Homo sapiens: one gene and its partner. The protein of the gene in region 1 interacts with the protein of each later gene in a biochemical or structural test. Each region holds a gene or a part of one and is shown on either strand. Other genes may lie near its edges.

Region 1 (3,653 bases):
AGACCAGCCTGGGCAACATGGTGAAGCCCTGTCTCTACAAAAATTAGCCGGGCATGGTGGCGGATGCCTGTAGTACCAGCTACTCAGGAGCTAAGGTGAGAGGATCACTTGAGCCTGGGAGGCAGAAGTTGCAGTGAGCCAAAATCGTGCCAGTGCACTCTAGCCTGGGTGACACAGTGAGACCCTGTTTCAAAACAAACAAACAAACAAACAAATAAACCAAAAGTATTTTGAAATAATTAGATTTATAGATAGCTGCAAATAAGGCCAGGTGCGGTGGCTCACACCTGTAATCCCAGCACTTTAGGGGGCCGAGGCGGGCTGATCACCTGAGGTCAGGAGCTCGAGACCAGCCTGGCCAACATGGTGAAACCTCATGTCTACTAAAAATACAAAACTTAGCTGGAACTGGTGATGGGCACCTGTAATCCCAGCTACTAGCAGGCTGAAGCAGGAGAATCACTTGAACCTGGGAGGCGGAGGCTGCAGCAAGCCGAGATCACGCCACTGCACTCCAGCCTGGGTGACAAAGTGAGACTCCTCAAAAAAAAAAAAAAAAAAGCTGGGCACAATATGGTGAAACCCTGTCTCTACTAAAAATACAAAAATTAGCTGGGCATGGTGGTGCATGCCTGTAGTCCCAGCTACTCGGGAGGCGGAGGCAGAAGAATAGCTTGAACCTGGGGGCGGAAGTGGCAGTGAGCCAAGATCATGCCACTGCACTCCAGCCGGGGTGACATAGCAAGACCCCATCTCAAAAAAAAAAAAAAAAAAAAAAGCTGGGCACAGTGGCTCATGCCTGTAATCCCAGCACTTTGGGAGGCCGAGGTGGATGGATCAGGAGGTCAGGACTTTGAGACCAGCCTGGCCAAGACGGTGAAATCCCGTCTCTACTAAAAATACAAAAATTAGCCAGGCACGGTGGCGGGTGCCTGTCATTGCAGCTACTCAGGAGACTGAGGCAGGAGAACTGCTCAAACCTGGGAGTCAGTGGTTGCAATGAGCCGAGATTGTGCCACTGCATTCTAGCCTGGGCAACAGAGCAAGACTCTGTCTTTAAAAAACAAACAAACAAACCAACAACAACAAAAAAAAACATACGAAATTTCTATGCACCTAGCCTTCTGCAGTGTTAACCTCTTGCATAATGATAGTATAGCACTGATATTAGAAAACTGACATTGGGGGCCAGGCATGATGGCTCACGCCTGTAAGCCCAGCACTTTGGGAGGCTGAGGCGGGTAGATCATCTGAGGTCAGGAGTTCGAGACCAACCTAGCCAACGTGGTGAAACCTCATCTCTACTAAAAATACAAAAATTAGCTGGGCATGGTGGCACTTGCCTGTAGTCCCAGCTACTTGGGAGGCTGAGGCAGGAGAATCACTTGAACCCAGGAGGCGGAGGTTGCAGTGAGCTGAGATTATGCCACTGCACTCCAGCCTGGGTAACAGAGTGAGACTCTGTCTCAAAAAAAAGGGAAAGAAAACTGACATTGGGCCAGGCAAGGTGGCTCAAGCCTATAATCCCAGCACTTTGGGAGGCTGAGGCAGGAGGATGGCTTGAGCTCAGGATTTTGAGACCAGCCTGGGCAACATAATGAGTGATGCCCCGACTCAAAAAAAAAAAAAAAAAAAAAAAAAATTAGCCAGGTGGTAAATGATCATAGTCCTAGCTTGGGGAGACTGAGGCTAGAAGATCACTTGAGCCCAGGAAGCAGAGGTTGCAGTGAGCTGAGACCATGCCACTGCACTCCAGCCTGGGTGACAGAGTGAGACCCTGTCTCGAAAAATAAATAATAAGGTCAAAAGCTTTATAGTTTTCCCTGAAGTCCTGAAGATTAGTGTGTACACAATGAGTAGTATTCAAACATGGAATGTTTTAACCAGTCATCAGGTTTTCAACCCTGTGGTAGAGTAGGTTATAATTACAGTTACCTCCTTAAGCAAAAGGAGCTTACTCTCTTAACACAATATTAAATGGAGACTAAATTATTTAATTTGCAGATAAGTTTAGTATTTTATAAATAAGGTCCTACCTTGCAGCAGTCTTACCTCTTCAATGTGGATACTTCCTTTATCTCTCTTTGTTTTTGAGACAGAGTTTTGCTCGTCACCCAGGCTGGAGTGCAGTGGCACAATCTTGGCTCACAGCAACCTCCGTCTTCCGGGTTCAAGTGATTCTCCTGCCTCTGCCTCCCGAGTAGGCATGTGCACCTACAGGGATTACAGGCATGTGCCACCATGCCCAACTAATTTTGTATTTTTAATAGGTTTCTCCATGTTGGCTGGGCTGGTCTCGAACTCCCAGCCTCAGGTGATCTGCCCACCTCAGCCTCCCAAAGTGCTGAGATTACAGGCATAAGCCACTGCACCTGGCCTTCCTCTATCTCTTTATCATTATCTAACAAGGAAATGCTACACAAATATTTCAGTTTTGTTTTATAACCTGGAAGCTTTCCTAACTAGAGTTCACAACACAGGATAAAGGATTACTACACCTTGAAGTAGTTTGTCAAGCTCTTTGGAGCCAGTAGTAATCTGTATGATCTCTGACCGCCTTTGGTGGAATTCAGTTGCAGTGGTGAAACCCATTGGAACTAATTTAGCTGCCTCAGCCTGGGAAAAATAAGAAATATTAAATCAACAAAATAATATTCCTTACCACAGTGATCTTGATGGCAAAAAAATATATATAAAGAAAAAAGAAATATTAGTAAAACAAGGTGTGCAATGGGAAGAGAAAATATCAAATAAAATTACCAGGATGATTTCTCTTTAGAAAGTCATAAAAAAGGATAATCTAATTCAGAGATTCCATGAAGATCAATTTTTAAATTGCCAATTCAAGTTAATATATTAATATAGTTTTAAAAACTATTATAGATCCGGCCGGGTGCGATGGCTCACGCCTGTAATCCCAGCACTTTGGAAGGCCAAGGCAGGCGGATCACAACGTCAGGAGATCGAGACCATCCTGGCTAACATGGTGAAACCCCATCTCTACTAAAAAAATACAAAAAATTAGTCGGGCGTGGTGGCGGGTGCCTGAAGTCCCAGCTACTTGGTAGGCTGAGGCAGGAGAAAGGCGTGAACCCGGGAGGCGGAGCTTGCAGTGAGCCGAGATCGCGCCACTGTACTCCAGCCTGGGGGACAGAGCGAGACTCTGTCTCAAAAAACAAAACAAAACAAAACAAAAAACTATTAGAGATCCGTACATATGTGTTTTGCCCAATTTATGACAAAAATGACAATACAGTACACCTTCATTTCCTGCTCCATCAACCGCAGACTGTATCCCTTAACTTCCTACTTTGTAAAAATGAGGACATTTGCCCTTCAATCTTTTCTCTCTCCATGGCTACTTCCCCACCTCTATCAGCTGTACCTTTTCTTTCATATTGTCTGGCTGAGAACATTCACATTCTATTTTGTAATTACAGATAAGTGTTCTGTAATAGCACTATGGGTTGATTCTAAAATTGAAAAGTAAGTGCATTCACAAATATGCAAAAATAAAGCAACACACTCCTAAATAAGCAACAAGTCAAAGAAGAAATGACAAGGGAAATCAGAAAATGTTTTTGCAATGAATGAAAACGAAGATATACCAAAACGTATGGGCTCCAAGAAAAGCAGTGCTTAGAGAGAAATTC
Region 2 (3,653 bases), on another chromosome or scaffold:
TCAAGAGGAGTAGGAAAGCCTCTTGTATGTACCTGTATTATTTTATCTATAGCCTTCCATTTCTATTTCTTTCTTCCCACAGGTCCTTGGTTCTGTTGGGGGTTTTTTGTTTGTTTTTTGAAGAGGAGTTTTGCTTTTGTTGCCCGGGTTGGAGTGCAATGGTGCGATCTTGGCTCACCACAACCTCCACCTCCCAGGTTCAAGCGATTCTCCTGCCTCAGCCTCCCGAGTAGCTGGGATTACAGCCATGCCCCACCACGCCCAGCTAATTATGTATTTTTTAGTAGAGATAGGGTTTCTTCATGTTGGTCAGGCTGGTCTCGAACTCCTGACCTCAGGTGATCGCCCGCCTCGGCCTCCCAAAACACTGGGATTACAGGCATGAGCCACCATGCCCAGCCAGGTTTTTTACTTTTTTTTTAAGTCTGTTTTCCCTTTATTATTTATATTGGGTAATTTTTATTATTTTTATCTTCGACTTTATTGATTCTTTTCTCTTTCTCCTCCTTTCTGCTGTTGAACCTATTCTTTTATTTTCACTATTTTTTTAGTTCTGAAACTTCCATTTTTAAGAAATATTTATTCTGTTTATTTGCTGAGACTATTTTTTTTCATTTGTCTCAAGTGCGTCAAGGTTGCTTATTAAAGCTTTTTTAAATGGCTGCTTTAGAATCTTTGCCAGATAATTCTAACCTTTATGTTATCTCAGTATTGACATCTATTAACTGTCTTTATTCATTCAAGTTGAGATTTTTCATGGTTCTTAGTATAACAAGTGATTTTTGATAGAAACATGGACATTTGGAGTATTATGTTTTGAGACTCTGGATCTTATTGAAACCTCTTTTAGGTAGCTTCATCTGACACTGCTCTGGTAGGAGAAAGTGAGGAGTGGAGTGGGTTGTTACTGCCACGTGGAGAGGGAAGTCCAGGTTCCTCAGTTGACAGTTGAGAGAGGGAGAGACTCCTTGTTCCTGCTGGGCAGGGGTATGAGTTCCAGCTCCCTGCTAAGCCTCTGCTGACACCACCCTGGCTGGGAGGGCCAGGGAAGCCTTGTTGCTGTTCCTCACATGCCTTCTGCTGAGGGGTAGGAGGGAAGGGTGGCCTCAGCACCACTGAGCAGCGGTGAAAATCCTGATTCTCTGCCACACTTCCTCTGGCACCACCCCAGAGGGGCAGGGAGTGTTGCTTGGTTACTACTGTCAGGAGGAGGTGAAGTCCAGGCCCCCAGGTAGTCTCTCCATTGTCACAATGAGGGGAGTACTCGTTGCAGGCCTGTGGGAGATCAAAGTCCTCCAGGCACGGTGGCTCACGCCTGTAATCCCAGCACTTTGGGAGGCCGAGGCGGGCAAATCACCTGAGGTCAGGAGTTTGAGACCAGCCTGGTCACCATGATGAAACCCAGTCTCTACAAAAAAAAAAAAAAAAAAAAAAAAAAGAATTAGCTGGACATGATGGTGGGCGCCTGTAGTCCCAGCTATTTGGGAGGCTGAGGTGGGAGAATCACTTGAACTTGGGAGGCAGAGGTTGCAGTGAGCTGAGATCGTGCCCCCAGCTGGGCGACAGAGTAAGACTCCATCTCAAAAAAAAGAAAAAGGAAAAGAAAGCTCCTTGGCCCACCTTCTCTGGTATCCCAGCTGGGATACTGGGGTGCTCTCATTACAGCCCAATGAGGGGGGAAGTCCAGGTCTTCACTTGGCCTGTGCTAGCATGCATAGGGACAAGTCATAGGTTTTTCATGATGTTTACCTAGAGTAGAGCAGTTACCATCTAAGAGTTTTCTGCCTTTCTAGGCTGCCCCTTCCTTGGTCCTTGGTTAAAGAGAGCAGGCTTTGGTAGAGCTTTTTGTCAGCACATGTTACTGTTTCCGGGTTGCTGGCTCCTTCAGCTCAAAACCTGAGATATAAGAGGCAAAAAGAAAACCCAGGGCCGGGCACAGTGGCTCACATCTGTAATCCTAGCACTTCGGGAGGCCAAGGTGGGTGGATCACTTGAAGTCAGGAGTTTGAGACCAATCTGGCCAACATGGCAAAACCTTCTCTCTACTAAAAAACTAAAAAAAAATACTGGGCATGGTGATTCATGCCTGTTATTCCAGCTACTCAGGAGGCTGAGGCACGAGAATTATTTGAATCCAGGAGGCAGAGGTTTCAGTGAGCTGAGACCATGCCACTGCACTCCAGCCTGGGCGACAGAGCCGAGACCATGTCTCAAAAAAAGAAAAAGAAAAGAAAAAGAAAACCCAGGAACTTGCCACTGCCTCATTCCTGAAGTCCTGAGGTCTCTAGGTTTTAGCCTGTTGGTCTCTTCTCTCCACCTCTCGGTGTCTTCTTATGTTTACTTTACATATAATATCAGGCATTTTAGTTGTACTTAATTAGAGGAATAGGGGAAAGTGTGATACTCCGTCCTCCCAGAATCAGAAGTCCCAAATTTTTAATATTAAGCAGCGCCATGTTTTAAGGAATAGGCATTAAAGTGTTTTCTCTTGTCCAAGGACTGAGAAGAACCAGGAGAATTTTGTCTGCTCTATTTCCTGACTCCTTTTCTATTAATACTTAAATGTGAGGTATTCAGCAACTATAGTCAGTTTGATAGCAAAGGTAGATGCTCCTTTGGCATTTAATGGTATGTTCTTTGAAAGAGCTATCAAAATTTCTGAAGGTTTTATTTGTACATTTTATTTCATTGTTTGGGCACTTTTTTGAGGCTGTGACAGTTTTTGTTTATCCTCCGTATTTCCCCCTGAGGGGTCTTGAGGCCATACTGGGAGGGCACAAGGGAGCCCAAGCCCAGGGACTTAGCCTTCTTCCATCCCTTCCTGACACAGGGCTTTCACTAGAACAGTGAAGTCAGACTACTGGTGGCCATGCTGGAGCATGAAGGACAGCTGTGCCTCTGTGGGTGGGCTTGGCTTTAGCTGTCCATAGCAGGCGAGTCATTGCTCTTTGCATTCCTGATTTAGCAAGAATATGAGGGGACCCCAATATTGCAAAGAAACTGTTGCATGTCTTTCTCTTTTCCAGGCAAAAACTGATTATTCCAAGTGGAAGTTGCCCTGTTATTCTGAATACTTACTTTTGTGAGAAAGTTGTTGCCAAAGAAGATTCAGAAAAAACTTGTGAAGTGTACTGTCCGGACATACCCCTTCCAAGAAGAAGCATCTCTTTGGCCCAGATGTTTGTAATTAAGGGTCTAACAAATAATTCACCTGAAATCCAGGTAAACTCCTATTGGCCTAAAGGTTTTATGCTTGTAATAATGTTAGTGACTGGATTTGGAAGGGCTTCAGTGTAAGTGAAGATGTTAGCCTTTTGTCTCCCTCCAAAAACCCCACCACAAGGATGTATGCTGCATGAACTTACTGTTACGCCTGAATATATTATAGTTCAGTTCAGCATTTAGTGGTGCTCTTGTTACAGTATTTCATCTTTCTAATTATGTGTCTTTAATCTTTATTCTAATTTATTAAAATAGAGTCATGCATCACTTAACAGGGATATGGTCTGAGAAATTTGTCATTAGGTGATTTTGTCATTGTGTGACCATCATAGCGTGCACTTACACAAACCTAGATGGTCCAGCCTACTACACACCTAGGCTATATGGTATGGCTGATTGCTTCTAGGCTACAAACCTGCATGGTGGCAAGT

What was found. Proteins that work in one complex are often made in the same cells at the same time.
Region 2: the proteins of RAD51 (region 1) and SPIDR form a complex in vitro, tested with the Homo sapiens proteins (one study listed by BioGRID and IntAct).

Annotation. Positions count from the first base shown.
Region 1 is NC_000015.10:40,705,140-40,708,792, reverse strand, and holds part of RAD51 (DNA repair protein RAD51 homolog 1), read right to left. Parts: intron 2,617-3,653; coding exon 2,499-2,616; intron 1-2,498.
Region 2 is NC_000008.11:47,592,785-47,596,437, forward strand, and holds part of SPIDR (DNA repair-scaffolding protein), read left to right. Parts: intron 1-3,026; coding exon 3,027-3,222; intron 3,223-3,653. UniProt on the Homo sapiens protein: Plays a role in DNA double-strand break (DBS) repair via homologous recombination (HR).